Homo sapiens: one gene and its partners. The protein of the gene in region 4 purifies or fractionates together with the protein of the main gene of each other region. This does not show direct contact. Each region holds a gene or a part of one and is shown on either strand. Other genes may lie near its edges. The genes, in order: CAND2, OPA1, BZW2, TPTE, UNC45A, ALDH3A2 and LRPPRC.

The links.
Region 1: the proteins of TPTE (region 4) and CAND2 purify together in Homo sapiens (affinity purification with mass spectrometry; 2 studies listed by BioGRID and IntAct, with this or other methods). This does not show direct contact.
Region 2: the proteins of TPTE (region 4) and OPA1 purify together in Homo sapiens (affinity purification with mass spectrometry; one large-scale study listed by BioGRID and IntAct). This does not show direct contact.
Region 3: the proteins of TPTE (region 4) and BZW2 purify together in Homo sapiens (affinity purification with mass spectrometry, with the first as the bait; 2 studies listed by BioGRID). This does not show direct contact.
Region 5: the proteins of TPTE (region 4) and UNC45A purify together in Homo sapiens (affinity purification with mass spectrometry, with the first as the bait; one large-scale study listed by BioGRID). This does not show direct contact.
Region 6: the proteins of TPTE (region 4) and ALDH3A2 purify together in Homo sapiens (affinity purification with mass spectrometry; 2 studies listed by BioGRID and IntAct, with this or other methods). This does not show direct contact.
Region 7: the proteins of TPTE (region 4) and LRPPRC purify together in Homo sapiens (affinity purification with mass spectrometry, with the first as the bait; one large-scale study listed by BioGRID). This does not show direct contact.

The regions. Positions count from the first base shown.
Region 1 is NC_000003.12:12,802,810-12,807,018, reverse strand, and holds part of CAND2 (cullin-associated NEDD8-dissociated protein 2), read right to left. Parts: intron 3,532-4,209; coding exon 3,388-3,531; intron 1-3,387.
Region 2 is NC_000003.12:193,641,110-193,645,318, reverse strand, and holds part of OPA1 (dynamin-like GTPase OPA1, mitochondrial), read right to left. Parts: intron 2,555-4,209; coding exon 2,474-2,554; intron 2,345-2,473; coding exon 2,270-2,344; intron 1,947-2,269; coding exon 1,875-1,946; intron 1,792-1,874; coding exon 1,692-1,791; intron 1,345-1,691; coding exon 1,214-1,344; intron 1-1,213. UniProt on the Homo sapiens protein: Dynamin-related GTPase that is essential for normal mitochondrial morphology by mediating fusion of the mitochondrial inner membranes, regulating cristae morphology and maintaining respiratory chain function.
Region 3 is NC_000007.14:16,697,894-16,702,102, reverse strand, and holds part of BZW2 (eIF5-mimic protein 1), read right to left. Parts: intron 4,056-4,209; coding exon 3,917-4,055; intron 1-3,916. UniProt on the Homo sapiens protein: Translation initiation regulator which represses non-AUG initiated translation and repeat-associated non-AUG (RAN) initiated translation by acting as a competitive inhibitor of eukaryotic translation initiation factor 5 (EIF5) function.
Region 4 is NC_000021.9:10,576,908-10,581,116, forward strand, and holds part of TPTE (putative tyrosine-protein phosphatase TPTE), read left to right. Parts: intron 1-552; coding exon 553-613; intron 614-1,429; coding exon 1,430-1,511; intron 1,512-1,609; coding exon 1,610-1,698; intron 1,699-4,209.
Region 5 is NC_000015.10:90,944,946-90,949,154, reverse strand, and holds part of UNC45A (protein unc-45 homolog A), read right to left. Parts: coding exon 4,092-4,209; intron 2,542-4,091; coding exon 2,241-2,541; intron 1,360-2,240; coding exon 1,265-1,359; intron 1,014-1,264; coding exon 872-1,013; intron 502-871; coding exon 361-501; intron 1-360.
Region 6 is NC_000017.11:19,672,236-19,675,617, forward strand, and holds part of ALDH3A2 (aldehyde dehydrogenase family 3 member A2), read left to right. Parts: intron 1-915; coding exon of another isoform or gene 916-999; exon of another isoform or gene 1,000-1,040; intron 1,041-3,322; coding exon 3,323-3,337; coding exon of another isoform or gene 3,338-3,382.
Region 7 is NC_000002.12:43,985,424-43,989,632, forward strand, and holds part of LRPPRC (leucine-rich PPR motif-containing protein, mitochondrial precursor), read right to left. Parts: intron 1-4,209. UniProt on the Homo sapiens protein: May play a role in RNA metabolism in both nuclei and mitochondria. In the nucleus binds to HNRPA1-associated poly(A) mRNAs and is part of nmRNP complexes at late stages of mRNA maturation which are possibly associated with nuclear mRNA export.

The DNA of each region.
Region 1 (4,209 bases), on a different chromosome or scaffold from region 4:
CGGGCTTGTTTAAACAGATGGCTGGGCCCCACCTCCAGAGTTTCAGAGTCAGGAGGGCTATATCTAGGTGTGGCCTGATAGTGTGCATTTCTAGCAAGCTCCCAGTTGAGGCTGATACTGTAGGTGGTCCAGGGAGCACACTTGGAGAACCTCTGCCTTAGAGGCTTGCTTCTCAAAGTTTGGTGGTGAGTTAGCATTGGCAATGCCACTCGGGAGCTTGTTCAGGATGTGGAATCTCAGGCCTTACCCTACCCTAGATCTACTGAGCCAGGATCTGTAGCGCCACAAGGTCCCCAGGTGATTCCAATGCACAGGAAAGTGTAAAAACAGCGGCACTAGACGCCCTCGTTCTTGGCCTTAGTTGCCATCACCTGGGCCTCTAAAAAATGCCTACCTGGGCACTGCCCTCAGAGAGTCTCAGTTAATTGGTTTCAGATGTGGCCTGGAGGGGGTTGGGGGAGGGCTTTTAAAATTCCCCAGGTGATTCTAACATGCAGTCGAGGCTGACAACCTCTGCCCTACCTGAGTGGTTCTCAGACATTGGTGTGCATCAGAATGCAGATTCCAGGGTGCTATAGTCTCATCCTCTGCCCCAGCTCCCTTCCTGCTCCATCCCCTGAATCTGAATCCCTGGGCAGGGAATACAGGGTTTCAACAAGAGCTTCAGGTGACTGCAATGCACAATGGTTTTCTTTTTTCTTGATTTTTATTGAGATGAGGTCTCGCTCTGTTGCCCAGGCTGGAATACAGTGGCGTGATCATAGCCCACTGCAGCCTCAAACTCCTGGGCTCAAGCGATCCTCCTACACAGATGAGATTACATATTCAAGCCACCATGCTTGGCTAATTTCTTTTTTCAGTGTCTCGCTATGTTGCCCAGGCTGGTCTTGAACTGCTGGCCTCAAGTGATCCTCTTGCCTCAGCCTCCAGAATAGCTAGGACTACAGGCATGTGCACCATGGTTTTCAAACCTTGGTTCTCTCAACTTCCTTCTCCACAGCTCCTCTATCTACGTAATCATGGAGTCCTCCATCCTACCTCCTATAGCACTGGTTCCCACTAGGAGTAATACCACCTTGGCAATTTATGGGGGTCCTTGGTCATCAAAACTATTGAGTTAGTACTTCTGGCCTTTAAGGGGTTGAGAAGCAGGAACGGCAGAAAGACAATAATGTAAAACAAAGCACTGTCCATGCCCCGCAAGAGGTTCTAACATCCCAATGGGCATTTGTATAGGCAAAAGGCCTTTCTATAATTATCTGAGTCTAAAATTTCATTTTATACATAGACACAAAATACTTTTTTACATTGTTTTAATATACCACATTTTAGATTTTCTAAGAATGCAATTTTCAGGTAAATTGAAGGAAAATTCTACTTTGTTTTCTGGGAAACTTTATTGGGAGATGGTCACTCACTTTAGAAAATCCTGGCTGGGTGTGGTGGCTCATGCCTGTAATCCCAGCACTTTGGGAGGCCTAGGCAGGCAGATCACTTGAGGTCAGGAGTTCAAGACCAGCCTGGCCAACATGGTAAAACCCCGACTCTACTAAAAATACAAAAATTAGCCGGGTGTGGTGGTGCATGCCTGTAATGTCAGCTACTGAGGAGGCTGAGACATGGGAATCGCTTGAACCTGGGAGGGGGAGGTCACAGTGAGCTGAGATTGCACCACTGTACTCCAGCCTGAGTGACAAAGTGAGACTCTGTTTCAAAAAAAAAAAAAAGAAGAAAAAAAAAAGAAAATCTTGCCACTAAGAGCAATGGCCTCCAATTCTGAAACCTGAGTCCCCAACACCCCCTGTCTGTATCTGTACTCATGATGAGTTCACGTGTAGATGCAGGCTTCTCGTGACTTCATCACTTCTACCATCACAGTGCCCAAGCACGCATACATGGAAACACACATTACTATAAACTACATTCCTTCTAGTTTGCCTTTATGGTTATGGTTAGGGCATTATGTGTAGAGGTAGGTTTTATAATGTATGAATTTCATTTCCTAATAGGAAACGGTATTACAAACTATTTGTTATAAAAAGGTATTGGTTCTGCTGGTGTGAAACCCATCCTAAGTCTACTCCATGACCAGAAAGACATTCCCAGCTCATAAACTTGTCCATGTCACCTTCCTACATAAAACCCTTTACTGAATTCTCTCTGCTCTTGGGATCACATTGCAAATTCATTAACATGCCCCAGAAGAATGCCTGGACCCAGCTCACAGACAGTGGTTTGAGAGACAGTGCCCAATTCTCTCACCCTGTTGTCCCTTGATCCCTGGCATTCTATTTAAAATTACCCAGGTGATGCTAACCTGCAGTCAAGCTTGACAACCTCTGCCCTACACTAGTGGTTCTCAGGTGTGGGTGTGAGAATGACCCTACCACACAAGCATCCCCACGTGCTCTGCACATACCCTTGTCTTGTCTTTTTCTACTCGAGATAACTGGCCAACGTCTCAGGATCACAGCCTCACAGTGATCTAAGGCTGGGGCTTTTAGGACCTCTCCCAGTCCCATGTGCCCTAAGCCTTTTTTGTTTGTTTGTTTTTGAGATGGAATTTTTGCTCTTGTTGCCCAGGCTGGAGTGCAATGGCGCAATCTTGGCTCACTGCAATCTCTGCCTCCTGGGTTCAAGCGATTCTCCTGCCTCAGCCTCCCAAGTAGCTGTGATTACAGGCACGCACCACCATGCCCGGCAACTTTTTTTTTTTAATTATTATTTAGTAGAGACAGGGTTTCACCATGTTGGTCAGGCTGGTCTCAAACTCCTGACCTCAGGTGATCCACCTGCCTTGGCCTCTCAAAGTGCTGGGATTACAGGCATGAGCCACCGCACCCAGCCTTTAAGCCTTTACCACCTTGATGTGTGTCAGCTTGACCTTCCCAGCATTTACATCTGTCTGAGGGCTTTCTCTGGCTGGAGGTGGCAGGCAGTGGACAACCCTCCATCCTACCCCAGAAGCAGCCCTTAACCAATGACTACCAGGGAGCTGGTGGATTAATACCCCAGCTCCCTTACCCTTTGAGTGGGAAAAGTCCAAGGGACATGTCCTATACTGTGTCCCAGAGGTCCCCATGGGGTTAAGCTCATCAGGCCCACTGTGGTCACTTGCTTCGTACCATACCCTTGATTGGTCCTCTTCCCTTTCCTGCCTCACTTCCCTACTCCTCTACCATGTTTCCTGGGAGCGCCTCCCAAATAAACTTAGATTTGAATCCTTGTCTCAGCATCTTCTGGGAAAACTCAGACTAAGGTACCATTCAACGAGAGCTGCTCAGCAGGTCTCCTCTGCGAGGCTGTACCCCAAAGGGACAGCGGTCCCCAGGATGCTCCCACACAAGGTAGGGCCCCCTCTCCTGCTCCACCGAGGCTGACACTCACCACTTGACAGCCAGGTTCTGCACCTCACCGTTCTTGTCCTCCAGGAGCCGGAGCAGCATCTTCACCACCTTGCGCTCGCTGTCCTCGTCCAGCTGGATGGAGTCCTTCTGCAACTCCGACATCAGGTCGCTGGTGGCCATGAACCTGCACAGGGAGGGTGGAGGAGATTGCTGAGCAGCTCCTGGGCCCTGGTGGATTTGGGCAGTACCTCAGGGTTCCCCTAGAAGTAGACCTTAATACAAAGATTCGAGGTCAAATGCAGTCCTGTGTCACATAATGATGTTTTGGTAAGTGACAGGCAACATATACAATGGTTGTCCCATAAGATTATAATGGAGCTGGCCGGGCGCAATGGCTCACGCCTGTAATCCCAGCACTTTGGGAGGCCGAGGTGGGCAGATCACGAGGTCAGGAGATCAAGACCATCCTGGCTAACATGGTGAAACCCAGTCTCTACTAAACAAAATACAAAAAATTAGCCAGGTGTGGTGGCGGGCGCCTGTAGTCCCAGCTACTTGGGAGGCTGAAGCAGGAGAATGGCGTGAACCCGGGAGGCGGAGCTTGCAGTGAGCCAAGATCATGCCACTGTACTCCAGCCTGGGCGACAGAGAGAGACTCCGTCTCCAAAAAAAAAAAAAAAAAAGATTTTAATGGAGCTGCCCTATACAGGCATGCCATTTTAATCTTTTCTACCTTATTTTTACTGTACCTTTTCTATGTTTAGACACACAAATACCACTCTGTTACAACTGCCTACAGTACTCAATACAGGTTTGTAGCCTAGGAGCAACAGGCCACACCATATAGCCTGGGAGTGTAGTA
Region 2 (4,209 bases), on a different chromosome or scaffold from region 4:
CTTTAAAGTCAGACAGACCTTAGTTTGAATTCCTGCTCTGCTGCCTAGTAGTTATGCGACCTTAAGTAAACAACTTAATTTTTTCAAAAAGGTTGGTGAGATTATGGGACAATATGATACAGTGCCAGGCATGAAGCACTCAATAAATGGTAGCTATTATTATTTTTCCATACTTTCTTCAAATATCTAAATTCTAACCAAGCTGGATTGTCTTCTTTTACTCCTTCCTCCCCTCCCACCTTCTTCTTTAATATTTGGATCCACTGCTTCTCAACTCTTTTAGGATCAAAAATCCATTTCTAAATGTGACTAAAAAAAAAAAAAGACTATGTACCCAGAAAAATGCATATTTGCATAGAGACCTTTCACATATGTTAGAGTTTCTACCCCCTGAAGCCCATTCAGATTAATAATGGGATGAGAATCCCTCCTTTAAGACAAGTTACACCTAAGCTAATGCTGAATCTTTTATACAAAAAGGACTGAAATAAGCTTCAGTTGCATCTCAGAAGAAATATAAACTCACTATCCTAGAGTTGAAAGAAATGAAAGGAATGAAGAAAGATGGGGAGGAGGCCACAGAAATTTGTTTCTACCTCACTTCTCCCCTTCTCCATATCAGAACCATTAATGCCACGGCAGGCCTTACCCTTAAAAAGAAAGCAGAACAGAGGTTATGGTGGCTACCTAGAAAAGGGTTAACACAGCAGGCCTGAGACTACTGTCCTTAAAAAGGCCTGCCTGTCTTTGGCTGGTATCTGAAAACTTAACTGGTAAACAGTTCCCTACACTGATATAAACCTTTCCTTATATAACAGTGGCTCACTACTGAAGTAATGTGGTTTAATTATAACATATGCTTTCCTTTTGGGAGTATGAAATAATTTTGGTACATGAGGGTGCCGAAATGACTAACCTCCGATGAAAACCTTAGGAGCTGAGTCTCTAACAAGCAGCTTGTTGCTGGAGGAATTAAATGTGCCCAGTAGAGTCTACTGGGAATGAACTAGTGGAAAAACGTGAGCCTGGTTTCCTTCAGACTTCATACCATGTACCATTTCCTTTTGTGATTTTGCTTTATCCTTTCATTGTAATAAATCTTAGTTGTAAGGTGTTTTTTTGTTGTTGTTGTTGTTTTTTTAAATAACAAATCCCTATCACAGCTGGAGCTTTTACAAAGAATCTATTCTCGCAACAAAGAATTTGACCTCACCCTGCTTGGACTGGCTACATTTTTCTCTGCCAGGTCTACTTTGGTCAAAACGAATATGGTTCTCCTTCCATGAGGGTCCATTTGACTGACCAAGTCTGTAACAATACTGCGTTCAGCATCCACAGATCCATCTGAAAAAAATAAAAAAATGACACTGTGGAATTTTAAGATGTAAAGTAGACTTTTAAAACTCAGTACAAATTATACCCCTGTGTCTACATTATAGCAAGAAAGATTTTAATACATTTACGTTATTTACTAAAAAGAAATCCTAGCCGATAAAAATTTCAATGATGCTTATGTAAAACTTATCAAAATAATTTCAACTTCAATTTAATTTACTAATAAAATGAATACGAAGAGAAGGCAAAAATGCATTTATCTTGTATGTTTACATAACACAAACTATTTAATGCAAAGCTTGGATTGCTAAAGAAGAAAACATATCAGTACATTAAAATCTTTTGATATGATTTACCTTGAATACACAGTATGATGGCATTAGGATTCTGCATGTAAGCTTTGCTGATACTGAAAATAGTTTCCTTTGTGTCAGGAGCCATGCCTGATGTCACAGTCTTAAAGAAAAAGGTTTTAAATGTCATTATAAATGCTTCACACAATAAGAATAAAATAAAATACATGTTTTGTATATACTTACATTAATCACACCTGGTAAGTCAACAAGCACCATCCTCTGTAGTCCAGGGCCTTTTACATTTAAGGATATGGTCTACTCAGGAAAAATAAAAATAAAACAATGCTAAAGTTTGGGGGGAATTTGTCAAGAATTTTTTTTGGTGAAATGTATTCTAAAAATTCTATATCTCATCCATTCAGATAAGACGCTCACAAAAATGGTATTCTTTCTCTGATCCTAAAAGTAATTATTCTGGAAAATTACCCACAAAATGATATATTATTTGGATTTTTTTTTAAAAGCTCTACATATCTAGATAGCAGCAATCTAAACATCAATACCTAGATTTTGATTTATTTGAAATCATAAACATTTAATTTCCATAAAACGTCACTGAAATGAATTGCAACCCTTACCTCAGGGCTAACGGTACAGCCTTCTTTCACATTTTTCCTCATTCGAAGTTCTATTTCATGTCTTAATGCTGCAAGCTAATGGAAAACACAAAATCCTAAGAAAATCTAAGAAAATCTTAATTCACAAATATTCTTTAACTGTCTTTTATAAGCTCATCCAGGTTATAAAATTACACATATCAACCTTAGATGAATTTTACTTACATCTTCTTCTTTGGTAAGATCAAACTCCCGAGAACTATCTTTAAATAGGGCCACATGGTGAGGACCTTCACTCAGAGTCACCTGATAGTAACAGAAAACTGAGAGGTAATGATGTATTTATAAGTAATATTAATTCCCACAGCCCGTATGTGGTCTAGACAGGGCTACTGCATTGCACAAATCCAAGAGTCCCTTCACACTACTGCTGGGGCACCCCCTGAAGCTGTCAACATGGTAGTTCTGACAAGACAATAATTTTGTATTTGTATTGTTTGTATATATGTCATATATGTTGTGATTTCCCAACAAGAATGCTGGTTCCTTTATATCGCTTATGACCTAAAATGCTGCTGCCTCTTTCTTTCCCCAGTCAATGCTATACACAGCACTAAGCCCAAAATCATCTCTCTAAAACTTGAAACACTAAAAGGAAACCTTGCATTTAACCTCAAAGATGAATTTAGGTAAAGGACAATTCATTCATTCAACCTCTATAGAGAGTGAACTATGTGTCAGGTGTTGTAGGTGGGGAAACACAGAGCTGACTGTCCCAGTTTTAGACCTCATCACATGCTGGGAGAAATATACACAGACATAATAGAAGAGAGTGACAAAACCTAGGGTGCCACAGAAGAGAATGGAACTGATGATAAGGGAGCTACGACAGGCTTCACTCAAGGAGTGATATTTGGGTAAGAAATTTTGTTTTGTTTGTTTTTTTGTTTGTTTTGAGACCGAGTCTCATTCTGTCGCCCAGGCTGAAGTGCAGTGGCATGATCTCGGCTCACTGCAACCTCCACTTCGCGGTTTCAGGTGATTCTCCTGCCTCAGCCTCCCGAGTAGCTGGGATTACAGATGCCCGCCACCACACCTGGCAAGTTTTTTGTACTTTTAGTAGAGACAGGGTTTCGCCATGTTGGCCAGGCTGGTCTTGAACTCTTGACCTCAGGTGATCCGCCCTCCTCAGCCTCCCAAAGTGCTGGGATTACAGGCATGAGCCACTGCACCCAGCCAAGAAATGTTATAGCAATGTATATTAACAGTCAGTGGTTTCACAAGAACTTCTAAATGCCTAATTGACACCTTTCTAGCTTCTCTATAGTTATTTTACTTTAAAAATACAATTCCTTCTACTGAGATTAGCTAAACAGGCTAAATTTAAAAACAATAAACAGCTGTTGGAAAGCTGTTTAGCTATTTTCCATCAGAGGATTTGCTGATTTGTAGCACAGGGCAAAGGCCCAAGAGAAAAACTTAAAATGTGTAGCAGTTTCACTGGGTTGAGTAGACAAGATTGGAATTCCGAGTTATTAAGTAGTCACGTCTTAAGGTGCCACAATCCCAAAGAAAAATGAACTGCAGAAATAAACCTCCAAAACAAAACAAAACCCTACATCCTGCGCACAATTTCCTTTCACGGCATTCACATTTTAGGAAACCAAGCAGAAAGAAGCTGCTAAGGAGGTTAAAATGCTAAGCTGGGGTTTTGGCACTTTCACTGCTCTAGGGAAACAAAAAACTGGAATTCAGGGTTGGTCAAGGAGAAGCTCTAGTAAACACTAAGGGACTAATGACAAACCGGAAAGAGACCAGCCTCATCTGTTTCAAGGAAACCTGTCCACACCCTGCCTGCCAAAACAAAATTAATTTCTTCTTGAAGTATCATCCACAGCTTCTACAATTAGGATGCTAGTAACAATGTAAAAGGTAGGTTTCTCTCCCATGTTTTTACAACT
Region 3 (4,209 bases), on a different chromosome or scaffold from region 4:
AGGAATATAGAATAACAGTAAAAGACAGTAAGAAAGGAAGACATTGTATGATGGCACATAGAGACTGGAATATATGTTTTCCCCTTCTATCTGGCCAACTTCTTCATAATGTCTGGTGAGATACATGTACCTTGAGAGCCTTCACTTCTCCCCCTCCAAATTACCTTTAACAAGTTAGGTGCCCTCCCTCTGTGGTCCTATCCCTTCTGACACCCTCTGTGTGAGGCTTATTTCAGCAATTGACATGGTGAGTGTAATTCTTTGTTTTCTTCTACATCCTGAAATTCAGGAAGTCAGGGACTATATTTTGTTCATCTCATTTCCAGCATTTAATGAAAGACCTGCCCTATAGTATCGATTCAACACACGTTTAAGGAATAAATTTGTTAACTTGATGAGAAAAAATAAATATTTCTCAATTTGTAGAGTTCTAATGTATTCATGAGGATCGAAGAGACAATACTGTAAAAGTGGCTTGAGAACTGCTAAATTTTAGATCATGTTAGTTATTTAGAAACTTAGTCTGAAACTATGTCACTTGAAACTCTTGAAATTCAGAAATTTTTTTATTAGGAATGTCACATAGGGACACAAGTCAAAAATAATTTACCCTAAGAATGCTGGGAATATATGCTGAGAAGGGCACTCACCCTTTTTTAGAACTAGAATAAAAAACTCCTTTTAGAAAAATTTGCATGCAGGATAGAATTTAACCTAAAAAATTTCTGCAAACAAGAAAACCCATGATAGAGATAATAACAGTACTTGACAAGGTAGTTTTACACATTTTAGACCATGCTGAGTCTATGGGACTTATCTTCAGGGAAAAAAGAAGAGAAAATTATTTTTAAAAGTCAATAATGTGATGCTTGAAAGTTAGCAATGGATTTACTGTTTCTTACTACCTTAAAAATATGCAAATCTAGATTTTAATACAGAGAGTCTTTGCAAAATGACCCATCACCACTTTTTTCTTTGCTGACTAGCATTATTTAGTTTATTTGCTTTTATTCCACTGTTATTTATGTAAAAGATTTATAAATCTTTCAATAATGATATTCAATTAAGTAATTAGATTTGCCAAGGGGGACATGGCTAATCATATGCCCAAGTTTCTGCTATCATCAAGTTCTGGACATGTTGGGAAAGGGGAGGTGTGTGTGTGTCCATGTATATGTTTGTGTGTGCTCTGTGTGTCAGAGAGAGATAAAAATGAAAATTAAAATGGAGCAACGGTTTCCATTACATTTTAAAAACTTGTTTTAGAGCACTACGTTCCTTATGACAAACAAAAGGAATCCACAGAAACTTGGTAAAAGAAGCAGAGAAGACACTACTCCATATGTGTAAAATGTGGGTATGTACATGAAATCAAAGGTAAGTATAATCTTGAACATGTCACTGGAGTTCATAGCATCTGTTGCTTCTTGAATGCTATACACTTTACACCAGTGGTCCTGGTACAACAGTCAGAGCATCAGCTTGGAAACTTGTTAAAATGAAAATTCTCAGGCCCAACCCTGGCCCTACTGAATCAGAATCTCTGGGGGAGCTGTGTTTTATAACAAGCTCTCTGGGTAATTCTTAGGCATATTAGGAAAGGAGTGCTTTAACACTCACTGTTTACTAAGTCTCCCTCTAGGCATATAAAACACGGAATGAGAGCATCCAAATCTTTACAGAAACAAATCAAATACATGTCTCCTGGTGCACAAGTGTTTGGTGGACAAAATAAGGTGAAAGTAAAAATCTGGCAAAAAAGAGACAAGATGGTAAACATAGTTAACACAGTAACGCTCTTAACGGTGGTATGGAACAATCATTCCTCAGGGATTGCATGTTCTCCAGAGAAAACATGGAATCATTTCACTTAAGAAAACAGACTATATATATCATTCTGTGGAAAATTACAAAATTACCTAGAAAATGGTATTGAAAATGTTAGTTCAGTGATGTGTTTTAGGTTTACATTTTTAAAAAAGTTTCCCAATTTCATTTCCAAAAATAACTAAGGCAGAAATAAAATTGATGTTGACACTCACCCTTCCTGTGTTCCCTGGGGCCAGGTCATACTTGCCACAGACCTCACTAACTTTAGGTTATTTAAACGCTGATTACCTAGTTAATCAATGAGCCTAAGAGCTCATGCCTCTTCTTTTTACTTCCTAGTGCTTACTTCTTGAGTTATTTTCTAATTTCAGGTCATACTGACCCTTAGCATCTGGGGCTGATGAAGAAGAAAAAACTCAAAGTAGCCAGTTTTACTACCTGTCAGTAGTTGTTATAAGAAGTCTAAGTCTAAAGGAAAAGGAGGTTGGCATTAGTGGTTAAAATGAGAAATCTGAAGGATTTTAATAGTTCATGTGCCACCTAGATGTCATTTCCCGTAACAATGGGTTTGCTGATTCTTTGTGATTTCATTACAATAATACGATAGGGTGCTCCTGAAGATGAGACTCCGACAACGATGTCTCAGTTAAAAAAAAAAATTGGTGAGAAACACTGGTTGGGTTATCTTTTATATGACAAGAAAGCAAACTATGTTCAGGTAACTAACTAGTTTACGAACAGTTTGGTTTTCCGTAGTGGAAAAAATTGACCACCCTCAAAACAAATGTGAAACCTGTCCCATAGGTCTCTCTGCCAGTTTTACAAATGGAGCCAGCTGTGGCCACAGAAGGTTGGGCCCCACTTCTCGTTCTTGGCTGCTGGGTACCATCTATGAATTGGTAACATGGCTTGCAGGTTTGGTTCTGATGGGTGGATCACTTTGGGTATCATTGGGTGGGGCCTAGTTTTAGGACACTGCTATCTTATGACTAAATCCAAGAAGACCCAACTCAGGTCTGGTTGGAGAAAATACCAATTACTGAACTTCAAGTGGCAATGGGTGGCCATCATATTTTCCTCCTGACTATTATAATTGTTGCTGAATACCTCTGTGCCCTGAAAAAGTAAAATATCACCCAAACACTTGTGGACAAGATTCATTCATTTGAGGAATCTACGTGGCCAATAAAAATTCATTGTGAAATGCTATTAAGCATTTTTAAAAGAGCTATTATTTATCTAAAACCTTTATTTTCCAAATTCCCAAGATATAATTCAAAAGAGACAAATTTAGGAACACATGAAAGGGAAAATAAACATTTGGCTGGTATTATTTTAACTTTTCTGATATGATATTTATGAACATAATAACATAAAATAAACATGTTATAATGTTCAAAATGTACCACTTCTTAAGTGTTCCTTTTTCTCCCTCACAAAACTACATAAATGTAGGCCCAAAAAATAGCCTAGGACATTTCTGTATGCTGTAGGTATACAGATTGGGATCGGTTAAAACCTTTAGCATTCATATTTTAGTGCCAGTTGTCATAGCAACCTAATCCTTATAAATACAATGAAAAGACAGTAAATGTGAAAACCTAAAAATAGCCATTCCCTTGGAAAACAGGAGAATGGCTGGGCCAAGTAACTAAAATACAAAGTAAAAAGGCTAATTACTTCAGTAATTTTAAAGTCAGATTTATGGTACCTAAAAGAGTCTGAACATAATATATATACTATTTTGATAATCATTGTTATTAGAGCTAATCCTTACAATTCAAAAACAGGCTCAATTTTATATAATTACATTTTTTTTCCACCAACCCCAAGAAACAATTACCAGTTCATCTACCAATGAGAAGTGCCCAGGGGCCTAAGCAGGGTTTCCAAGGCAACGCATATATGGCGTGTATGCCTCCTCTCTCTACATGGTATGGTTGCCTCAATAAAACTTTCACAAATTAGCATCTTGCTGTCCCTCTCTAAACAGAGCCCCATGACCTCCTCTGCCTCATTGCCTGCTCTGCCTCTCAAAGAGCTTCAGCAAAACACAGAAGCACAGCAGTGGCACGTGGATGGATACCTTTATAAAAGAGAACCACAATCTTCTGAAAGGCTTTCATGAAATGGATGTTGTCGTAGCAGTATTCCTGAACCTTCTGGAGGAGGATCAGCTCTGACTGGCCTTGGGAGCTGAACACGGCCAGCAGGGGAGCATATTGCTAGAACAGAAGTGGAGAGTAAAAGCCGTCACTTGCGTGGGAGGTACAGAGCCGACACTGCTGGAACTATAACAGTAACCTGGAGGGTTGCTTAGAAAAGACTGACTTTCAGGATTGACACCTTTTATCATCATATTGTGCCCAATGGGGTGAG
Region 4 (4,209 bases):
TCATTTAAAAAAATAAAGAGAACAAATGAGCCAAAAAAGTCTCCATATTGTTACCAGTTATTTAAAATTTGATATGTTTATCTTTTTCTATCACACATACACACAATCATACTATATGCTTTTTGCATTTGTTTACATAGTGCTTAGATAGACTGTAATATGCAGATCACTCTCTAAAGATGTATCTATTCAGAATTAAATAAGAACGAATATGAATTAGATTTAAACAAGATCCATATTAACTGTGAATTAATGATTTAGAACAAATTACTTAAAGTTAGTTAACCAGCTAATTTACTTATCTGATAGCTTTAAACAGTGTGCATTTACAATAGAGACTCATCTGAGTAGCCAAACATACTTGTGGACTATTTGAAAAATCACAGTGGATTAGAACTTGAAGTTTGCATACCCTCTTATTCCCTGAATCTCCACTAGAAGATGCTAGTGAGAGACAAATTAATAAAAGTAATAACCATTTTAGGTTCCCCCTAGGAAATAGCTTATGTTGGTGCCATGTAAATATGTAAGATATGTGTTTGTCTTTTTTAGGAAGTTGTGCGGTTTCTAGATAAGAAACACCGAAACCACTATCGAGTCTACAATCTATGCAGTATGTACATTACTCTATATTGTGCTACTGTAGATAGAAAACAGATTACTGCACGTAAGAAGATGATTTTGTTTTTTAGATTGCATTTAATCATAAGTATTTGGTAGTGGCAAGGAATGAATTTAAAAATCCCCATCTTGGACTGGCCCCATTTAGTAGAAGGAGTTAGCCCAGCAGCACAAAGTACCGTATGAAGGATGTGGCTTTGGCAGGACCAATGAAGCTGGAGTGGAAGAAAACCATTTTAGGGAAGATCTGTTCTAGCGATATTAGGTTTAGGAAAATCTTTCTGTTTTTCTTGCCAGATTGTGTTATGAGGACATAGACAATTTAACAAATGAGTCTTCTGACCCATCAGCAGTGGCATGTGATGAGAGCAAGGCTCTAGATGGGAAAAAAGCAAAAAACTGTAGAAAATAGGTTGTAACCCAGTTTAATACCCTGTCTCTCTTGATTTTTTCCTCTACCTGTATACTCAATAGACATTTTCAGGGGGCAAACATTTTGGTCAGCTACATTTGCCTTGTGTGGTTTCTAACTACCCTGAAATAATATAATGAATAGTCTGCTAGAAAGTTAAAAATTATACCTATTAAACAAAAATAAGTTGAGTTTAGGTTATATGAGATGGATAAACCACTACCATCCTTATATTTTTGAAACGCTTGCGTTTATTTTAGAGTGGCAGGAGCAACTTGGAAAGCTCTTTTTGAAGATAGATAAGGAATTCTAATAAGATATGTTAACTTATTCATAACTTCCTCATTTATCATGTTATTCCCTATAGAGATATGACATACATATTATTTATTTTAGGTGAAAGAGCTTACGATCCTAAGCACTTCCATAATAGGGTCGTTAGAATCATGATTGATGATCATAATGTCCCCACTCTACAGTAAGTTTTATGCTAAATTGACTATCAGAAGAGGGCTAAATATATTGGGCTTGATTTTTTGAAAATATTTTAACTAAAAATCTTAAACTTGAAATCAGTCAGATGGTGGTTTTCACCAAGGAAGTAAATGAGTGGATGGCTCAAGATCTTGAAAACATCGTAGCGATTCACTGTAAAGGAGGCACAGGTAATAACATTTTCCTTTTTATTTCTCCATTTCTAAAGACATGTAAATATACATAAAGTACAAGAACAAGATACGTATTGCTATTAATATGTATTAATAATTGTTAGCATTTTTAAATATTAGCTCCAAGACTGAAAGAAGGGAAGGAGAAAGGAAAGAGGAGAGGAGGAAGGGTAGGAGATAGGGAGAGGATAAGGAAGGGAAGAAAGTAAGAAAAAAGAACTAAGGAAGGTTGAGCATATTTTCCCTTGTTTTCCTAGTATTTGGATTTCTTTATTTTTGGTTTGCTAGTTTATATCTCTCAAAATACAAACAGTCTTTAATTTTAGAATATCAGAGTACTGTTATTTAAGGCTGATCTTTTTTATTTTTAAATTAACAAATAAAAAACCAATATATTTATGGTGTACAACATGATGTTTTGATATAGGTAAACATTGTGAAATGGCTAAATCAAGCTAATTAGCATATGCATTACTCCACATATTTTTGTGTGAGAACATTTAAAATCTACTGTCTCAGCAATTTTCAAGTATACATTATTATTAACTGTGGTCACTATGTTGTACAATAAATTTCCTGAACTTATTCTTCCTGTCTAACTGAAATTTTGCATCCTTTAATTAACATCTCAGGCTGGGCACAGTGGCTCACACCTGTAATCCCAGCACTTTGGGAGGTTGAGGCAGGTGGATCACATGGTGAAGCCCCATCTCTACTAAAAATTACAAAACATTAGCCAGGTGTGGTGGCATGCACCTGTAATCCCAGCTACTCGGAAGGCTGAGGCAGAAGAATCGCTTGAACCTGGGAGGCAGAGGTTGCGGTGAGCTGAGATCGCACCATTGCACTCCAGCCCAAGCAACAAGAACAAAACTCCATCTAAAAAAATAACAATAATCATAAAGTAAAAACCAACATCTTCACAATCCCCCAAGTTTTGTCTCCCCAGCCCCTGGTAACCACCATTCTACTCTCTGCTTCTATGAATTTGACTTTTTTAGATTCCACAAATAAGCAAGACATGCAGTATTTGTCTTTCTACGCCTGGCTTATTTCACTTAACATAATGTTCTCCAGGTTCGTCCATATTATCTCGAGTGACAGGATCTCCTCTAAGGCTGAATAGTATGCCTTTAATTATATATACCATATATTATTTATCCATTCATCCACTGATGACATTTAGATTGACTCCATAGCTTGGGTATTATGAATAATGCTGCAGTGAACATGGGAGTGCAGATTTCATTTCCTTTGGATATATACCCAGAAGTGGAATCTCCAAATCATATGGTAGTTCTATTTTTGGTTTTTTGAGAAATCTCAGTGCTGTTTTCCACAATAACTACTAATTTACATTCACACCAACAGCGTACAAGGGGGTTCCCTTTTCTCTTCATCCTCACCAACTCTTCTTTTGTCTTTTTGTTAATGACCATCCTAACAGGTGTGAGGATATCTCTTTGTGGTTTTAATTTGCTTTTCCCTGATGATTAATGATGTTTAGCATTTTCTCATTATACCTCTTGGCCATTTGTGTGTCTTCTGTTGAGAAATATCTTTTCAGGTTCTTTGCCCATTTTCTAGAGAAGTAACTTGTTCTCTTGCTATTGTGTTGTCTGAATTCCTTTTTTAAAAAATCTGTTAACCTATTATCGAATGTATGCTTTGTAGATATTTCTCCCATTCTGTAGGTTGTCTCTTTACTCTATAAATATCTCCTTTGCTGTGCAAAAGCGTTTTAGTTTGATACAGTATCATTTGTCTACTTTTTCTTTCGTTGCCTATGCTTTTCAGTCATATCCAAAAATATCTTGGCCCAGACCAATGTCAAGAAGATTTTCACCTATCTTTTCTTCTAGTAGTTTTCCAATTTCATGTTTCACAGTTAAGCATTTACTTTGAGTTGATTTTTGTATATTGGGTGAGATAGGTTGCAATTTCATTTTTCTGCAAGTGGATATTCAGTTTCCCCAGTATCGTTTATTGAAGAGACTGTCCTTTCCTCATCTTGGATTCTTGGCACCTTTGTTGAATATCAGCTGAGTATAAATGCATGGATTTTTTCTGGGCTTTGTATTCTGTTCCATTGGTCTATATGTCTGTTTTTGTTCCAGTAATATTTAAGGTTGTTCTTAAACTTTGTGAGAACCTTTTAGATTAAGGGAGCCAACAGAGATGCTATATCAAAAATTATACTGGAATTTTTATAGTGTAATGATACGAAGAAGTTGACATTGGTGGGGTGAAAATGGGGGAAAAAAGCCATTTGTAAATCCAACCAATTTAAGTTTAGTTAGATTTTCTCTCATTCAGGTTTGGGCTTTAAATAATCATCTAAGCATATTTCACAAATTTTGACAAACATAAATAATTACATTTTTAGTGGGCTCTAAATCAATTTTTATATCAAATTCCAGGAAAACATAGCACCATCAACTGACTTATATAATTCAGTAAAATCAAGTTTTTGTCTTATTGACTAGTTTCAAGCCCATTAGTTAAAAT
Region 5 (4,209 bases), on a different chromosome or scaffold from region 4:
CCTGTAATCCCAGCACTTTGGGAGGCTGAGGCAGGCGGATCACGAGGTCAGGAGATCGAGATCATCCTGGCTAACACGGTGAAACACTGTCTCCACTAAAAATACAAAAAATTAGCCAGGCATGGTGGCGGGCACCTGTAGTCCCAGCTACTCGGGAGGCTGAGGCAGGAGAATGGCATGAACCCGGGAGGCGGAGCTTGCAGTGAGCCGAGATCGCATCACTGCACTCCAGCCTGGGAGACAGTGAGACTCCATCTCAAAAAAAAAAAAAAAAAAAAAGGGAGGTTGTTCTGCTGTGGATGCCCTGGGTTAGCTGTCCCCATGGTGGGGAACCCTCTAGCCCCTCTGGCGGCCCCTCACCTTGGGGTGCTGCTCGGGCACATGCTGCTTGGCATACTTGGCCAGCTCCACCATCTTGGGGTCGGGCTCCTCGTAGTCATAGCTGTTGGTGCAGTTCACCAGCGCTGAGGCCACCGCAAAGAGCACTGACCTCTCCTCCAACTGCCAGGACACAGAGGAATTCACATGGGCATCCCGGGGCAGAGCAGTACTCAGATAAATGCTGCCCAGGCCCAGGCCCCCAATTCCACCCTCAGCTGGGACCCTTGGGTACAGGATGAATTCGGGAAACTCCCAGGCCCCAGACTTTGGGAGCTTACAAACTTGACCTCCCCAGCTCCTCCAAGAAGAACGTCCTTGCTAACACCACTGGTGCTGGCCAACATGCCCACACTACACAGAGCAGCCACTCAGCCACCAGCCCTCTTCCCTGGGGTCAAAAGACCCCATTGGCCAAGCCCTGCCGAGAAAGCCTGGTAAGGTCTAATCCTAGACAGTGTCCCCAGGCTGACGGCAGGAACCACAGAGCTACCCTGCTGAGCTGGAACAGAGCTTTCAGAGCAGCCGCATCCTCCACAAACTCTTCCTTCACGTCGGCATCAAAGGTCAGGTAAGCCAGGCCCTCCACTGCCCAGCGCCGAGTGCCTGCGTCGATCTGGTCATTGCACAGCCACCTGGGGACACGCAGGATAGTGGACGACCCTCAGGATTGGGGGTACGGAGGGGTACACCAAGGCCAAGGGGGAAAAACCAAGGGTTTGGGCATCCCCTCAATGTACAGAAGCAGTTCACGTACCAGGATCCAGACTGCAGCCCCTGCCTGAGCCAGAGAGCAGGACGGAGGAGGCCCCAACCCCCACCCAGACCCCTGTGTCTTGAGATCTACCCCACAGGTGGGGAACCACAGCAAGGCCAGATGACTCACTTTCGACACTGCTTAGCCAGTTTGAGAGTGGAGCCTTCAGCAAACTGCTTCATGCTGAAGTCAGTCCCTCCAGCCGAACCGAGCTTACAGAGTCCCTGGAGGAAGAGGGCAAGACCAGTTGGCCTCTGGGGAAGGAGGCAGGAGCTGAGCTCCTCCACACCTGGCTTGGACTCCCTCCCTGGCACTCTGCCATGGCCCCCTGGAAGCTACACAGACAAATCAGCACCCTCTCCCTCCAGACCACCACCTAGAGCATGTGGCAAGAAAATCAGCTACTGGGGTGGCCGCATGACACAGCATCTGCAGACACTGATGCGCTGGCCGCTGGACAGTCGTGGGCCCCACCCCTTCCCAGGCCACACTGAGAATGGCTCTGTTTCCTTCCATGTCGCACAAAGAAGCCCTCTGCAGGTGGAGTTGAGAGGCATGTGGGGAGAGGACAGGTGCTTCAGCCACAGCCAAATCCTTATGGGATGGAGAAATCCAGGACTGAGTGCCCCAGGGAGGAAGACCAGCTTCCACAGGGTGCACAGCCACAACAGGCTCATGGAGGGCCAGGTAGTCCCCAAACCCCCAAACCACCAGCTCCCAGGAACACTGCATGACCCCTGCAGGCCCAGTCTTAAGCCCCATGGAGGGAGGAGCCATGCCGATGTCTCTCACCACAAGAAAGCCCAGAATCTCGTTCATTCATCCATTTATTTTAGAGAGGGTCTTGCTGTGTTGCCCAGGCAGGAGTGCAGTGACATGCGTGACTCACCACAGCCTCAACCTCCTGAGCTCAAGTGATCCTCCTGCCTCAGCCTCCCAAGTAGCTGGACCTATAGGCATGCACCACCAAGCCTAGCTAATTTTTTTGGCATTACAGTATTCCTTATTTTCATCTGGAGTGTGCTGGGGCCACACCCTGCAACACCGGCTGGACCAGGACCCCTGCCTGGCTGCCTGCCCACCCACCCCAGGCCCACCGTCTCACCACTAGCGCCCGGATGCGGATGCTGTCCTTCTCGCTGCACTTATATAGGTCCTTCAGCAGCGAGACACCATTGGCAGTGATGAATGAGGCCCGCTTAGCCTTGCCGGCTGCATGGATCAGAGCCTCCACGGCCACCAGCTGCTCCTCCTCCTGCTCAGAGGCACACAGAGCAATCACACTCTCCATGACACCGCTCAGCTCCAAGGCCCGGTTGCCAGCGTCACATGGGCCCTGCAGGAGGCAGGACACCGTCTGGATGGCCCGTAGCTTCCCGGCCAGCCCTTGGCCCTCAAACCAGCTCCTGAGGGGCACAGGGTGACAGCCGTCACACCAAGGCCAACATAAAGGGACTCTTCTTCCCTCCCTTCCCCTCCACTGGCCAGGCACCTGCACTACTTGGGCAGAAACAGCAGGAAAGCTGCCAATGGGAGGACTAGGACGTTTCCACCTGGACAATAATGGCTGATTTTCTTTATCGACTTTCACTCAAGCCTTCCCTGACATAGTATCTAATACAGGTTACTCCCATACCACCAGTGATGTCCCTTCCTGGACTTAAGCTCTGAAATGATTCGGCTTATTTCATAATTTATCATCAGTTTTCTCCCCAACAGCTGTAAGCTCCTTTAATTTTTTTTCTTTCTTTTTTTTTTTTTTTTTTGAGACAGAGTCTCACTCTGTCCCCAAGGCTGGAGTGCAATGGCGTGATCTCGGCTCACTGCAACCTCCACCTCCTGGATTCAAGCGATTCTCCTGCCTCAGCCTCCCAAGTAGCTGGGATTACAGGCACCCACCACCACACCTGGCTAATTTTCTGTATTTTTAGTAGAGATGGGGTTTCACCATGTTGGCCAGGCTGGTCTCGAACTCCTGACCTAAGGTGATCACCCACCTGCCTCCACCTCCCAAAGTGCTGGGATTACAGGTGTAAGCCACCACACCTGGCCTATAATCTCCTTTAAGAACAAGGACTGTCGCCTGGACGCGGTCCTCATGCCTGTAATCCCAGCACTTTAGGAGGCCAAGGCGGGCAGATCACCTCAGGTGTGAGGTCAGGAGTTCGAGACCAGCCTGGCCAACATGGTGAAACCCCATCTCTACTAAAAATACAAAAATTAGCCAGGCGTGGTGGTGGGTGCCTATTATCCCAGCTACTTGGGAAGCTGAGGCAGGAGAATTGCTTGAACCTGGGAGGGTGGAGGTTGCAATGAGCCAAGATCATACCATTGTACTCCAGCCTGGGCAACAAGAGCGAAACTCCATCTCAAAAAAAAAAAAAAAATCCCAGCACTTTGGGAAGCCAAGGCAGGCGGATCACCTGAGGTCGGGAGTTCGAGACCAGCCTGACCAATATGGAGAAACCCCGTCTCTACTAAAAATACAAAATTAGCTGGGTGTGGTGGTGCATGCCTGTGATCCCAGCTACTCAGGAGGCTGAAGCAGGAGAATCGCTTGAACCCTAGAGGCGAAGGTTGTGGTGACCTGAGATCATGCCATTGCACTCCAGCCTGAGCAACAAGAGTGAAACTCTGTCTCAAGAAAAAAAAAAAAAGGACTGTCATGTTTCATCTGTGTGGGAACAGAAGCGTAGGAAGTGTTTGGTAAACCCAGTACGTGCTTGATGGCGTTTGTTGCATTATTGGAACATTGACTTGAGAAAGAACCTCCCTGCGGAGGCCACTTTGGAGCAGGAAGTGGGCCTTGGGGCCACTTTCCCTTTGTTCAGCCTCCAACTAGTCCTCCCCAAGATTACTGTTTCTGCTGGAAACCTTTCATTTCTGCCCCTCCTCAAGGAGTCAGAACTTTTTCGCTAGAATCCCTGGCAACGGGAGGTGAAACAGACTTCCTTACTTGATGTAGTTTTCACAAAGTCTGTGGAAATTCTCCCTCTCCGCATCACACTTGAGGTCATCAAAGAGCTTGCTGAGGAGAATAGAGGCGCTCATGCGGCTGTTTGCGGTCACTGCGA
Region 6 (3,382 bases), on a different chromosome or scaffold from region 4:
GTTTGCTGATCTCTGGTCTAAGAGATTAAAACAGCGTAGAACTTGATTGCAGAATTCTGAGCTGTCTGATCAAAGGGTTAGCCCTTTGATCCTTTTGGTATTGGACTTTCCTTGTCACTTACAGCTTTGTTCTTGAATGTGCATGAAATCAGCTTACCACAGAGGTGAAGGCAAGAACTCTGGTACAACAGCTTTGGTGAGGGATATTTTATTAGGCTTGAGTTTTTTTCCTCCAAAGTTCACTACCTGATAAAGTTTATCTTTGGTGATTAGTCATTATAGGGATGGGCTTGCAAAGAGGCCCTCATGATAGCTGCCTTCTCAAAGCAGTTTGCGTATTTTGAGATGAAAGAGGAAATCCGTAATTAAAGTTAAGATGGAATGAGGAAGGCAATTGTGTCTGTGGTGCCCTCAGCCGTTCAACTGAGGATATAACATTGAAAATATTGACCATATCAGTGAAGAATGGGCTTGGAAAAGGCAATGGTAATAGTTGTGTTTATGTTTTGTTTAAAATTTGAAAGGGGGCCGGCGCAGTGGCTCACACCTGTAATCCTAGCACTTCGGGAGGCTGAGGCAGGGGAATCACGAGGTCAGGAGTTCAAGACCAGCCTGACCAATATGGTGAAACCCTGTCTCTACTAAAAATACAAAAATTAGCCAGGCATGGTGGCACGCACCTGTAGTCCCAGCTACTCGGGAGGCTGAGGGAGGAGAATCACTTGAACCCGGGAGGTGGAGGTTGCAGTGAGCCAAGATCATGCCACTGCACTCCAGCCTGGGCAATAGAGCGAGACTCCATCTCAACAACAACAACAACAAAAATTTGAAAGGGGTTTGGCTCATCTTACAGTATCCCAGCCTTAGTGGAATTGGAGATACCAGTTGCATTTGAAATCATTTGGGTTTTCTCAGAAATACCAAGCTGTGCTGAGGAGAAAGGCCCTGTTGATTTTTCTGGTAGTTCACAGACTGCGTTGGTCCAGTAAGCAGAGATGAACACCAGATTTCAAAACCCAGCCCTGTCTGTTAAGAGTGAGGTAGGAACTTTTTGTTTTCTTTCTATATGTAAGGTGGGCCAAGTTGGGGTATGTTTTCAAGGGTTTTTTGGTTTGTTTTTGTTTTTGTTTTTGTTTTTGTTTTTATTTTTGTTTTTTTTTTGCTACAGTTGGAGGCTTAAGGGTTATTGAAAAAAGAATGGGCCGGGCGCAGTGGCTCACGCCTGTAATCCTAGCACTTTGGGAGGCCAAGGCAGGTGGATTGCCTGAGTTCCGGAGTTCGAGAACAGCCTGGCCAACATGGTGAAACCCCATCTCTACTAAAAATACAAACGTTAGCTGGGTGTGGTGGTACGTGACTGTAGTCCCAGCTACTAGGGAGGCTGAGGCAGGAGAATTGCTTTAACCCGGGAGGCAGAGGTTGCAGTGAGCCAAGATTGTGCCACTGCACTCCACCCTGGGTGACAGAGCAAGACTCCGTCTCCAAAAAAAAAGAAAGAAAAAAGAATGTTTAACTTACTTATCTCTAGACATTTTGGACCTGGGCCCAGAGTATCAGGGTGTTAAAACTCCACTTATCCACAATTTTAAAAGGGTGAAGTGACTTGCTAGGAATCTAAGAGAAGTGTGCAGAGGCAATGGCTTAGCTGCGTCCAGGTGAAGCATACATCATTTCTTGGAAAAGGGCAGCTGAGTGTGAGCCTCATTTCTCTTCCCCTTCTACTCAGCTCTCCTGGGGGAGGTGCCAGCTGACTAATTCAGACTTGTCACCATCTAGGCACTGAACTCTTTATGTCATAATTTAAGAATATGTTTTTTAAATCACTAAGTAGTTTTGATTTGTTTTCATTTTTAAAAAAAGGTTTGACTTTGGAATTCATGGCAGCAAATGTCGTGAAATCAAGGTGTAGTATACAATTTAGGGGCTACTTTCTTTGCCTTCCTGAGGCTGGAGGTGTGGTCGGAAGCTTACTTGGGTCTCTGGTCAATATCTGTCTCTTTTGTTCTTTTCCCAAGACCTCGGTTCCTCAGTTTGATAATGCATCTTGGTAGGATAGAATATTTTAGCCTCATGGAAAATACGGAGGCCCAGGCTGAGTCTGCATTCTCCAATCTTACCAAACCCCCAAGAAGCCTCCCTCAGGTGCAGTGCAGTGTGCCAGGCAGGTTCGAGTTCCCAAAGGGTTTGGCAGGCATGTTTCTCTGTGAGGGTCTAGAGAAGCAGCAATATATAAAAGAAGCAGCAATATATAAAACCTTTAGCAGAAACAAAAAAATGTGGTTTGATTCCTGGCTCAATGAACTTGGGCAAGGCCTTTTCTGAGCTCTTTCTTGGGCCTCAGCTTGCTCATCTACAGGGTGAGGGAGTAGGTGTCAGTGATTCCCCAGGCCACTTTCAACCCTTCCGCTCAATTCTCATTACTAATAGTTGTTAATATTTCTTTGGATTCAATCTGGAACTAGGTAGAGATTTGGTTTTCTTTTCCACTTTGCTGCTTTTCTGCTCCTTTCTGAGCTTTTAATCCTCTTTTTATCAAATTACCTTTTATTTAAAATAAATGACTTTGAATCTGTACTGTATATTTACCTGAATAGTCTATTTATTGTAATTACATTTTTCTGAAATGGCTTTTATGTACTTAATAGTTTCCTTATTTTGTTACACTCTTGGATTTTATTTTATTAATTACCTTACTAGAATTAGAAGGGATTTAGAGCAGAAGTATTGTACACAAAGTAAAGTTCCAATAAAGCTTATAAGCTACAGAAGGCATTGTGGGAGATGTGGGTTTTAAAAGGTCGAGAAACATAAGAGGTTAATGTTGATAAATTTCATTAGGCCTTTGACAACTAAATATGACATTTGAACCTTGAGATTGCAGCAGCCCTTCCTCAGTCTTCAATAGGAAGGATTAAATTCAGTACTACTTTTGAATTTTAGAAACAAAATTGTATACCAGTTTTTGAATTCCATGTAGAGACTTCAGCTTCCTACTGAAAATGCTAGGATAATAAGTTAGTACTCTCATCTTCTGTCTCTACTCTGACATTAGCTAGTTGACAGTGGACAGAATATAGCCTTCATTATCACGTTGTCTTACTCTTATTGTTATTGTTGTTTTTTGAGGAAGGGCATAATCCTTTGGCCTAAACCGTGCTTCCTAGGCTTCCTAGGGATATGTAGTCCTTTTTTGTACAATGCATGTAGAGTCTCTTCAGACAGGAGGTGTCTGAGTCCCAGTGCTGAGCTTGTGTTGCAAGGCTGGTTGTGGGTAGGTTTTTAAAGCAGCTGAGTAAACTGAATCCTTTTTTCCTCTCTCCAGGCAGAATATTACTGAAGAATGATCCTGTTCAACCTCCTAGTGCCTCTACTGAATTATTCC
Region 7 (4,209 bases), on a different chromosome or scaffold from region 4:
ACCTTTACAGTATCATACAAAATAATTTCACCACCCTAAAAATGCCCCATGCTCTATCTCCTCATTCCTTCCACCCTCCTTCCGAACCCCTGGCAACCACTGATTTTTACCTGTCTCTAGTTTTGCCTTTCCCAGAATGTCATATAGTTGCATCATACAGCATGCTGCCCTTTCAGATTGGCTTCTTTCACCTAGCAATACACATTTAAGGTTCCTCCATGTCTTTTCACAGCATGACGGCGCACTTCTTTTCATTGTTGAATAATGTTCTTTTGTAGATATACATGATTTGTTTACCCATTTGCCTACTGAAGGACATCCAGGTTGCTTCCAATTTTTGACAATTATGAATAAAGCTGCTATAAGCATTTGTGTGAAGGTTTTGGTATGGACATGCATTTTGAACTCATTTGGGTAAATACCTAATGGTAAATCTATGTTTAGCTTTCTAAGAAAACTATCAAACTATCTTCCAAAATAGCTATACCATTTTGCTTTCCTACTAGCAATAAATGAGAGTTCCTGTTGTCCTACATGCTTGCCAGTATTTGGGGTTTTCGACGTTTTGCTGGATTGTTGCCATTCCGATAGTGGTATCTCATTGTTGTTTTAATTTATATTTCTCTAATGACATAAGCTGTTGAACATCTTTTCGTATGCTTATTTGCCATCTATATGTCTTTTCTGGTGAAGTATTTTCTGCCCATTTTTATTTATTTTATTTTGAGATGGAGTCTTGCTCTGTCACCCAGACTGGAGTACAATGGCGCGACCTCAGGTCACTGCAACCTCTGCCTCAGGATTCAAGCGATTCTCATGCCTCAGCCTCCTGAGTAGCTGGGATTACAGGCACACACCACCATGCCCGACTAATTTTTATATTTTTAGTACAGACGGAGTTTTACCATGTTGGCCAGGCTGGTCTCAAACTCCTGACCTCAAGCGATCCGCCCACCTTGGCCTCCCAAAGTGCTAGGATTACAGGCATGAGCCACCATGCCCAGGCCATACACGTTCTTAAAACTCTTCTCTCCACTTTTTTTCTTCTTCACTGATATTATGAATCAGTTTAGTGTCACTTTAGAGCTATCAAGAGTTTAAAGGTAGATACAGGTAGAAGACAGAAGAGGCATTATTAATAGCTAATGTTTATCAGGTGTTTAATTTGTGCTGGGTATGAGAAAATTATAACTTACAAATGAAAAAACTGAAGCAACTTGCCCAAAGTCATCACAGTTAAGGCTAATGATAGGGCCAGGGTTAGCACTCAGACGGTCTCATTCTGAGACGGTCTCATTCTGAAACGAACTCAACGTGGCAAAAGGGCATTGAAGAAACTAATCTGGCTGCAATTGGGTGTTCACACTGGAAAGTGGTAAAAAATTAAACCTAGACAGTGAGAGTGAGACTAGACAGTGCAAAGTCTCTAATGGCAGATAAATAAGGGATTTGGATTTTATGACACACTTGTAAAGTACAAAACTAGTTTTCATAGAGCCGCTCTCTCAACTTATTTTGTTGCACTGTAATGTAGAAAATGGGGAACTCAAATTTATCTCCTACGTTTTCACCAATCCCTAATTTAACTATTCCACTTGAATTTTCTTTAGCCTGTTGATACGCTGGATCACGTGGATTGATTTTCAAATGCCGAACCAGCCTTGCACAGTTGGAATAAATCCCACTTGATCACGGTAAATCATTCTTTTTATATACTGCTGGAGCCTCCCGAGTTTTAAATGTATCCAAAATGCAAAAAGATAATGCCTTTTAAAAATGTTTGGTAATGAGCCGGACGCGGTGGCTCATGCCTGTAATCCCAGCACTTAGGGGAGGCCGAGGCGGGCAGATCACGAGGTCAGGAGATTGAGACCATCCTGGCTAACAAGGCGAAACCCCGTCTCTAATAAGAATACAAAAAATTAGCCAGGGGCCGTGGCGGGCGCCTATAGTCCCAGCTACTCAGGAAGCTGAGGCAGGAGAATGGCGTTAACCCAGGAGGCGGAGCTTGCAGTGAGCCGAGATAGCGTCACTGCACTCCAGGCCGGGCGACAGAGCCAGACTCCTCAAAAAAAAAAAAAAAAAAAAGGTTGGTATTCCCTTCAAATTTCTCCACTGCAACCAACCATTCCACTAATACCCTGTTCCCACAAACTCAAACTCAAAATCTTAGACTAATTATTTTATTGGGCAAAGTCTCTCAGCCTTTACATCCCATCTAGTGAGTGCTTAGATGTCTGAGGCTCTTGATGAACTCATGGATTTCTGCAACAAATCTTTAGTTTCTCAGGCTTCAGCCTCTCTTCATACAACTGCCAGATCAACCATCCTCAAAACCATCTTTTTTCAAAAATCCTATCATTGTTCTTTACTTATCACATCAATTCTGTTCTTCCATTTATTAATTCAAAATATATTTACTGAGTGCTTTCTATGTATAAGGCACTGGCTAGAATATTCTTATCTAGTAATAAATCTAATAAATTAGACCTTTAAAAATATTAATTATGGTAAATGTAATTAAGAAAAGAAACAACGGGCCAGGCACGGTAGCTCAAGCCTGTAATCCTAGCACTTTTGGAGGCCGAGGTAGGCAGATCACTTGAAGTCCGTTCGAGACCAGCCCGGCCAACATGTGAAACCCCATCTCTACTAAAAATACAAAAATAAGCCGGGCATGGTGGCAGGTGCCTGTAATCCCAGCAACTCAGAAGGCTGAGGCAGGAGAACTGCTTGAACCCAGGAGGCAGAGGGTGCAAGTGAGCCAAGATCGCCCCACTGCACTCCAGCCTGGGAGACAGAGACTCTGTCTCAAAAAAAAAAAAAAAAAAAGCTGGACACAGTGGCTCATGCCTGTAATCCCAACACTTTGGGAGGCCAAGGCGGGCGGATCACCTGAGGTCGGGAGTTCTAGACCAGCCTAACCAACATGAAGAAACCCCATCTCTACTAAAAATACAAACTTAGCCAGGCATGGTGGCGCATGCCTATAATCCCAGCTAGTTGGGAGGCTGAGGCAGGAGAATCGCTTGAACCTGGGAGGCAGAGGTTGCAGTGAGCCGAGATCACGCCACTGCACTTCAATCTGGGCAGTAAGAGCGAAACTCCGTCTAACAAGAAAGAAAAGAGACGCCACTGCTCAATAAACAATAGCTGTCTTATTATAGAAGGTGCTCAATAAATGCCTCTGAGTTTTTGTTTGTTTGTTTTTTGAGATGGAGTCTCGCTCTGTCACCTCCGGAGTAGCTGGGACTACAGGCACCCGCCACCACGCCCAGCTAATTTTTTTGTTATTTTTTTCAGTAGAAACGGCGTTTCACCATGTTAGCCAGGATGGTCTCGATCTCCTGACCTCGTGATCCGCCCGCCTGAGCCTCCCAAAGTGTTGGGATTACAGGCATGAGCCACCACGCCTGACCAAATGCCTCTGAGTTTTTACAATATCTTTCCTTTATCTTTTTTTTGAGACAGGGTCTCATTCTGTTGTCCAGGCTGGAGTGCAGTGGTGCAATTATGGCTCACTGCAGCTTTGAACTCCTGGCCTCAAGCAATCCTCCCACCTCAGCCTCAGCTCCCAAGTAGCTAGGACTACAGGTGCATGCCACCACAGCTGGCTAATTTCTTTTTTTCTAGAGACAGGAGTCTCACTATGTTGCCCAGGCTGGTCTTGAACTCCTGGCTTCAAGTGATCTTCCTGCCTCAGACTCTCAAAGTGCGGAGATTACTGGGCCTGGCCTAAAAAATCTTTTATAAAACTAAGTCACAATGAACTTTCTCCCTCTAAGAACTGAATTCTCCAAAAACTTTTGACAAATTTAGCTGCCCCAGTTTTATGCTTTATGGTAAATCACAGAATTTTAGACTAAAAAAGCTACTAGCCACCCTTCTACACTTTATAACAACCTTCTGGCCTGAAATACCAATCCACTCCTTTCCACCTATCGAGATTTCCCTTCCATCTCCCAGGATCCTCCAGTCAAATGGGATGTCTCCTGTGTCTCACCTATGGAGGAAGTAATGCAAAGTCAGTTAACCAGATTGGGACCGATAATGTGACATGGACACTCTTCAGAATCTATGAAGATCCCTTCCAGATACATTCTGAGATCTTCTATGTTTACTTACCTGTGAAAGTCTTTAAATCCCAAGTTTATATCATATATTGCCTTTTAAAAAATGTTTTTGTCCATAAGTAATCCCTTCACCATC